3 separate regions of the Homo sapiens genome follow, and regions 2 and 3 are each linked to region 1. The links come from fine-mapping of genetic effects on gene expression. A gene starts in region 1. Each other region holds a variant in brackets. All regions are shown on one strand. Distances are between the middles of the regions.

Region 1 (2,821 bases):
TAAAAACCACTGATGTATTCGTTGTGATAGTATTATACAACGATCACTTAACTTACTTCAGCCTGAAGTCATCAGCTGCCAGCCTGGCATTGTCGATCTGAAGCAGGATGTTGGCATTATCAGTTGTTAGGTTGAGAATCTGGAGGGAGAGGCACAGTTATTTGAGAAGAGGTCAGATGCAGATATGGCTTTTGTAGTGACATAGATGCACTCTGCACTTTTATGTTGTTCTCTTACAAAATCTTGGGAAAATTTTTTATTTTAAATATGAAATATTGCAGGCTTACCCATATACTTAACTTTGAATTATTTGTTCTCTTGGAATTTCTCCAGTCTTGTATTTCTGTACACGAATTATTCCTTTCTGAAAACTAACTGGAATTATATAGATGTATTCCTGTAAGTGTGCCCTCCTCTTTTAGACTATGTGATTTCCATGTATTTCAGCCATGCTTTGGCTGACTCACACCTGCATTTGTTTAACTCATGATAAATACTAATAAATAAATACACTCTGAACTGGTACACAATAGGTACAATTCAGAAATTCCTTAGAGGCAAGCAGTGTCCCATTTTCATACTGGAAAATTTATTTTTCTTGCCATGTTGGTACTGAATATGGCTTGTTATCAGTCTGAATAACATTTTGTTCTGATTCATATCATGATTTTTTTTTTCAGTTTCTACATTTGTAAATAGCCTAGCATATTTTAACTGTGGACTCATTGTATGCTCATTAAAACCTCAAAAGTGCTTAGTAAATCTCCCATCCTCTTAAGACAAGTAGCACACTTGCTGGATGAAGATTGCCATGACCATAGTTTCACAGATGTTTATCTTTGATGAGACTGGGTTATTTTTGAAGGAAGAAAGTAACATGGGTAAGCATAGTGAACAGCCACATTGTGCTTAATTTAAGATTCATCTGTCTGGATTACATGGACAAGATACTTAAAGCTGGATTTAAAAATACCTCTTACCTGATTTTTAAGGTCATCGATGGTTTTGTAGTATTTGCTGTAGTCACGAGGCTCCCCCTGATGTGAGTTGCCATGCTTTTCATACCACTCCTTGATTTTGCCTTCCAGCTCATAGTTTGATTCTTCCAGAGCCCGAACTTTGTCCAAGTAGGAAGCCAGGCGGTCATTCAGATTCTGCATGGTTACTTTTTCATTTCCAGAGAGAAGGCCACCATCTCCTCCAAATCCACCACCAAAGCCTCCTCCAAAGCCGCCTCCACCAAAGCCGCCTCCACCAAAGCTGCCCCCACCAAAGCTGCCACCTCCGAAACTGCCCCCTCCAAAGATGCCTCCATAACTCCCACCAAAGCTGCTACTTCCATAGCTTCCACGAAAGCTACCTCCACCAAAACCTCCTAATCCTCCATAGCCACCTGATGAGCCCCCAAAGCAGCCCCCACCAGAGCTCCCACGGCTAAAAGAGCCACCACTGAACCCCCCTGAGCTAAATCCTCCACCAAGGGAGCCTTTGCTGCTAGAAATTCTTAGGGATGACACTCCTCCTCCTCCTCCACATCCTCCTCCTCCTCCTCCTCCTCCACTGCGGGAGGAAGAGTAGTGCTTGCTTGAGCTGTATCGAACAGACATGGTGATGCTGTTTAGCCCAGGGAGTGCCTGCTACCAAGGACAGTGACAAGCCTTTATATACTGAGAGGGTGTGTCCACATGTGTTAGAGTTTGCTTACTTACATTGTTTTCTTTTTGCCAACTTAGCATCTTTGGCTTATGATTGCATAAATTATCTTCAGTAATAACCAATCCTAATATGTACAATTTTGAATTTGCCCTAAGAATAAACAGGAGGTTTGCTATGTTGAAATTGAAAATGGGTGGAGTTCAGATGAGCATGTTTTATTATGCTTTTCACCTGTTGAAGAACATTGAGCAACCGTTAAGATCCATTTTTCTCAGCACTAATTCAGGTTGCATAGAATGTTTGCAAAGTTTAGAAAAAAAAGTTTCAGCTACAAAATTATAGTTAAAATAAGATTTTTCAAATTCATGTTTTAAACAGTTTTAATTGGAGCAACAAATAGCATAAAGTCTGGCAGGATCATGCTACAATAAGGTTCTTGTAGACAACTGTAGGGAATCAAAAAGAAAAAGTTTCTAAAAATTTAACTAGCATCAATAGTTGCCACACATAAAACATTAAAGCCATAAAACCACAATTTAGGAGATTGTGTTTGTAGGAGATCTTTTAATTTATTTGGCAAATGAGAGTATATTGATATTTTGCCTAAGAAAGTGGAAGTAATGATTTTAGAATTTTCTAATTAATGATGGCATTATTTTTAACATTAAAAAATCTGAAATCATAAAGTTATCCTGGATTATTTTGCACTTTTAAATTCATCATAGTTAAGGTTTCTGTGAAGACCATAATAATGCAGAAAATCTGCATTATTTTCTTAGCATGAAATCCGAAGAACTAACTTGTAGTACTTTACACTAAGTTCTGATTGAGTAAAAAGGGAAAATTTGGATATGTTATGATTGCAAGTAAAAATTTGCTTGCAAAAATGTAAATCTATATTAGAGAATGATACTTGCACCAAATATTATGAACTAGACTGTGCACATGTGTTCCCAAGCTAGGTTCAGTTTCTCAATAAAAACAACACATTTTCTTGGATATACTGTGTACAGAATTTGGTATAACAGTTTGTCTAGTGAAGTAAATTGGGATTTTGGTACATTGTATAAGATTATATCTACCCATAGGCTATGACATTGCTGTTGTTTGGATGTATATATTCATACATGTTTTACAATTATGTAGTGCTGTTTGTGATACTGTG
Region 2 (2,821 bases), 21 kb after region 1:
GAGATTTCTATCATAGGAAGAGAAAAAATGGCTGGAAAAGGACATAGTCACATTCTTTCTGTACCCATAATACTCTGTGTGTGCCTTTATTATTCTACTTATCACATTTATCTTGGGGAAGTTTCACAAATCACACACAACATAACACTCCCACCCAGAGATTCAGAATTCATTCCCTCCCCTGCCAAGCACCACTGCAAATAAATTGTTACTATTGGGTATATTTTGTGTCCTTGAGCTGCTTTAGGAAAAAAAAAAATTAAGAACCCCTGATAAGCAATTTGGAGCTTCAGATTGCTTTTGAGAGGGGCAGTGACTCAAGAAAAGTATTGCTTCAGGAAGATTAGCCTGTTGGAAGTATACTAATTGGTTTGGGAGAGATGGAGCAAGGGAATCGGTTAGGAGAATGTTAGTGTCTACATATGTCATCATGGACACAGAAAAAATAAGCTGATTGAAAGAATAATAATTATTATTTGATTACTGATTGGATATTGAGGTGGTCAAGACCAAGAAAGTGTCAGAATAGGAAAGCCAGGAGAAAGAGTGGTTTAGAAGTACAGATACTGAATCGGAAATGATGGTTGTACATTCTCATGGTCAGCCTTTTGCTTCAATTTCTTTAACATGTATTGGTGCAGGCTTCACAGAGCAGAAAACACTCCTGCATGCATATTGTTAGCTGTTCAGAAGCTTTCTGGACTTTCTTCCAATCCTTCTCTCTGTTCACTGCTGCCTGTTCACTGCTGCAGGTAAGGTAGGAGGAAAGAGAATATCTCAGGTGGGATCTGGTAATAAAATAAGAGGAGATCTAGTTATCTGTGGCAGCCTTATCTATTGGAACTACAGAAACAAGCTCACTTCTCTCCTGCTTGTCTCCTCATTAGATAAAAGGAAAGATTATGGGGGCAGTGGGTGGGAAGAGTAGTTAAGTTACAGGAGTTAACAGAGTTAAGTAACTATGATGATGAGCTCTTTCCCTGAAGAACCAAGCCTGTGTGCCAAGGTGGGGCCGCTTTTGCTCAGTGTGAGAGAGGGTGTTTCCCCCATCTCTGGGGAGGAGTAGAGGAACCAGTACCTGCTGAGGTTTCCGTCATTGTTTTGCTGCCCTCTTCCTCTCTGCCGCACCACTCTCCCACCCCCTGCCAGCTATCCTGTGTTCTGAAGTTGCTGCCTGGTACCCCAAAGCCACATTCCAGTTTAGTTTGTCCTCCTTTGACTTGCTCCATTTGTCTGTTTTCTCCTCTTTACATACTGAGACTTCTCAGCCTGGTGTGGGAATAGGTATTAGGAGGATAACCATCTGGTGAGTCTAATTCAGTCTAAGGTGTGACTTACTGACTGACTGCCAAAGGTGGGTAGGGTTGGAGAGGTATTCACTGAAGCTATTTACATTTTTTTAAAAAACACACCTTTGGGAGGCCAAGGTGGGCGGATCATGAGGTCAAGAGATCGAGACCATCCTGGCCAACATGGTGAAACCCCGTCTCTACTAAAAGTAGTCCCAGCTACTCGGGAGGCTGAGGCAGGAGAATCACTTGAACGCAGGAGGCGGAGGTTGCAGTGAGCTGAGATTGTGCTATTGCACTCCAACCTGGCAACAGAGTGAGACTCTGTCTCAAACACACATGTGCACACACACACACAC[A/ACT]CACACACACACCAAAAACAAAAAACACCTTTTATCTAAGTGGAATTTCAGGCACCGTGGTGGTAAAAATTTTGAAGAAAATATTTTTCTGTATTTTTCCAATTAATACAACTTGACTTTAAAATTAACTGTAGCAGGAAAAGCACTTTGTTGTCTCTAGGCCTCTTTTCCTCACCTTCTGGAGGGAAGGGACAGTATCTTGGCTCTGATTGTCCTATCTTTTGTACAGTTCACTGAATATATATCATATGCCATATATTTTACTGGGGTTCTGAGGATGCAAGGATAAGTAAGATGTGGTCTTTACCTTCAAGGAAGTCATATCTTTTGGGTCAAAGGGTAGGAGACAAGGCACAAATAATTACAAAATAGGATGAAGAGTTTGGAAATACAGATTTATCTAAAGTATATGAAGCACCAGTAAAAAGAAACCAGTTTCTGGAGGACTTAATGAGATGTCTTTTGAATGATGTCTTAAAGAATGACTTAGAATTCATTGTATGGGAAAAAAAAAATCTAGGCTGAGGGACCAGCAAGTATAAAGGAGACATAAACACACACGACGTATTTCAAGAACTGAGAAAAGTTTGGTTTAGCTGGGACATAAAGTTTATGTGAGTGAGTGCCAACAAATAAGTCTGGAAAATAGGTTTGTGCTACATAAGAAAAGACCTGTAATGCCATTTTAAGGAATTTGGACTTGATCCCTTAGTCATGGAGTGGACCGTTGAAAGCTGCTAAATAGGGGAGGAACATGACCTTAATTTTTTGAAAGATAACTTTGTTGACAGTGTACTAGATGGATTGGGGGGAAACTGGACAAAGGGAGATGAGATGGGAGAATTTGCAAGAGTCTGGGGAGGGGAAGAAACAATGAAAATTTCACAAAAGTGTCAGTGCAGTGATAAGAATGGGAAGATAGTCATAGATAAGGTGGCATTTGACTTGGCTGTTTGCCCGTTGATGATGGAGGGCATCTAAGATGACAAGACGTTTCTAGTTTTGAACTTCGGGGAATGCTATTGACTGATATGTGAATGCAAAGGGGGAGCAGTTTTTGTAGGAAAGATAACAAATTTAGGGAAAGGAAGATTGAGCCTGAGGTACCTATCAACATTCAGATGTAGATATTCCATAGGCAGCTGCAGTGTGGGTCTGAGATTAGGAGAGAAA
Region 3 (2,664 bases), 61 kb after region 1:
TACATGTAGCTTCTAACCTCCTTTAGGCTTCAGGATTCTGGACATTGAACCGTGCTTCCTTTATCAACAATGATATGGAAAGCTGAGTATCTGGAAGGACTACTAAAGGAATTCTTTTTCAGAAACTTTTGCCACGTATTAGGGAACCTACTTCAGTCTGAAGTCCTCAGCAGCCAGTTTAGCATTATCAATTTGCAGGACACACCGAGCATTTTGCAGTTGAGCATCCTTAATCTGGAAAATACATGAGAAAGAATGACATTTTCTTTTTTATTTATTTATTTATTTATTTATTTATTTATTTATTGAGACAGAATCTTGCTCTGTTGCCCAGACTGGAGTGCAATGGTACGATCTCGGCTCACTGTAACCTCTGCCTCCCAGGTTCAAGCAATTATCCTGCCTCAGCCTCCCGAGTAGCTGGGGTTACAGGCATCCGCCACCATGCCCGGCTAATTTTTGCATTTTTAGTAGAGACAGCATTTTGCCATGTTGGCCAGGCTGGTCTTGAAGTTCTGACCTCAGGTGATCTGCCTGCCTCGGCCTCCCAAAGTGCTGGGATTACAGGCGTGAGCCACCGTGCCCGGCCAAGAATGACATTTTCAACTGGATAGGAGTTTACAAGGATTTAGTTTATCCCCAGCTACAGTGACTATTATGTCAAAAATGATGTTCATTTCAAGTATTTCTACATGAAAATATATAGAAAAAATAATGACATAGTTATTTAACATAACAGAGTCATAAAATGCAACTCTAGATGCCCCAGGGTTTGGTCTACTTTCTTGTGATTTTACAGAAGGATAATTTAACTCAACTTGAGTCATCACACCTTATTGAGTGCCTTGCCTTTGATGTTTCTACTTAGGACATTTCTTTTAGCCCCTGTGGTCTGGTGAACTCCCATTCCTCCCTCATGTCTCAGGTTCGACAACATTGCTTCATAGGAGCCTTCACAGATGCTCTCAAAACTGAACTGGATGATCTGCCTGTGCTCTCATTATCCCTCTGTGTGCTGGTCCCTCTGTCCATCCCTGTATCCTCATAAATCATATTGTGTCCACCATAATATTCCTCAGTCCCCAGCATGGTGCCCAGCACCTAGTTAGTGTTCATTCAGTATTGGCTGAATGAAAGAACATGATGCATGAAAGAACGAAATGCATGATGGAGGCATATAGATGAAAAATCTACTTGCAGAAGATGTTACAATGACATTTCTCTTTCAATGGACCCAGTTTTGGAGAGGGCTGCTTCCTATGGTTGGGACTGTCCAGCTCAATGGGACGGATGGCCTGTGCCTGTGTATTTCAGATGAACCAAACTAGAGTCAGAAACACGAGACAGGTGTGGTTCGAACATTTTTAGTGAGAGCTTGCGAAGGATGAACTTTATTCCGGAAGGGCTATTTAAATGCCATTGCTTCACATGCC[C/T]ATAGTTTCTAAAATTCCAAAGTAACTTCCCATGGAGTCCGAATCAAATTGCCCTGATGTTTAGTACAACTCAAGAAAAACAGACTTGCTGGTAAGTAAATGCGCTTTGCTCTAAAGGAGTATGAATCTTAACACAAATTACAGTGAACACTTTTCTTAATTAGATAAGAACTTTAATTTGAAGCAAGTGCTCTGTGTCATATCTGAAATTTTCAATTAGGAGCAAAGTCTTCTGCTTTTATTCCATGAAACTGATAAAATACAGAGCTCCACCCTTTTTTTGATGACATAGGAGGAGGTTGTGATATGATTGTAATAAACATGAATTGGGGGCAATAGAACATTTTATTACTGTAGAAGTAGTTTCTGAACTGCTTGATGCTGATGGTCATGTTATTAAACAGGGCACTTAAAAATCCAGGCATCATTAAGACCCATATTCCTGCCACACTGTTTCCACCCAGAATCACTTTGCTATTTAAATCTGCAGTACAGTATTCTAATAGTCATATTATAACATTTACTTAAATAAAAGGAGAAAAGTCTTTGAATTTACTGGGGTTTCAAAACTTGATAAGGACTAGGTGAAAAACTAAGAGAGATTTATCACGTAATTAATTTTTAGCTCTTTTCAGAAAGATTGTTCACTATACATTTAGCCCTGATGTGATAAGCTGTGACAAAGATTCATTTTATTCCGGAGGATAAAATGTTCATATTTTGTATGTAATTGTGTTAAACATTAAAAATAGCATGATTTAAGGTCATCCTGTTGTACAGTCAGGTACTCCAGCACTAAAGGTAGATGAAAGAATTTTTATAGATGTAACATTTTAGCCTAATTTGCTTTACAAAGTCCATTTGGACCTACCTAACATAGATAACCTCTTGATTTATCTTGAAGCTAAACACAGAGTAGGAAACACAAGCATCATCTCTCACCTGACTTCGCAGCTCTTCAATTTGTCTGTAATATGCACTGTAGTCGCGACCAGCCCTCGGGGCGTTGGTTTCGTACCACTGCTTGATTTGCACTTCAAGTTTGGAGTTGGACTGCTCCAGGGTCCGCACCTTTTCTAGGTAGCTCGCTAGACGGTCATTTAGGTTCTGCATGGCCATTTTCTCATTGCCAACAAACAGGTCCCCGCCGCCTGTGAGATCGCTCCCATAGTTCACCGTGTGTCTGGAGTTGGAGATGCGGATGCCCCGGCCTCCAGCACCCCCATAAACG

The links. PIP is the estimated chance that this variant, and not a neighbour inherited with it, causes the effect.
Region 2: its variant is fine-mapped to the expression of KRT10 in neutrophils (CEDAR, PIP 0.95).
Region 3: its variant is fine-mapped to the expression of KRT10 in whole blood (INTERVAL, PIP 0.96).

The regions. Positions count from the first base shown.
Region 1 is chr17:40,820,979-40,823,799 of GRCh38, forward strand. KRT10 (keratin 10) reads right to left here and starts at 1,636. Exons shown (of 8, transcript NM_000421.5): 1 at 981-1,636; 2 at 57-139. The coding sequence starts at 1,607. The region is part of intron 1 of KRT10-AS1 (KRT10 antisense RNA 1); the gene reads left to right.
Region 2 is chr17:40,842,378-40,845,198 of GRCh38, forward strand. No RefSeq gene overlaps it. Among named protein-coding and RNA genes, the nearest start is that of KRT10, 21 kb to the left of the region's middle. The variant A/ACT (reference allele first, on the strand shown) is at 1,649.
Region 3 is chr17:40,882,421-40,885,084 of GRCh38, forward strand. KRT20 (keratin 20) reads right to left here. Exons shown (of 8, transcript NM_019010.3): 1 at 2,376-2,664; 2 at 152-234. The region is part of intron 1 of LOC105371777 (a long non-coding RNA gene); the gene reads left to right. Among named protein-coding and RNA genes, the nearest start is that of KRT20, 1.5 kb to the right of the region's middle. The variant C/T (reference allele first, on the strand shown) is at 1,434.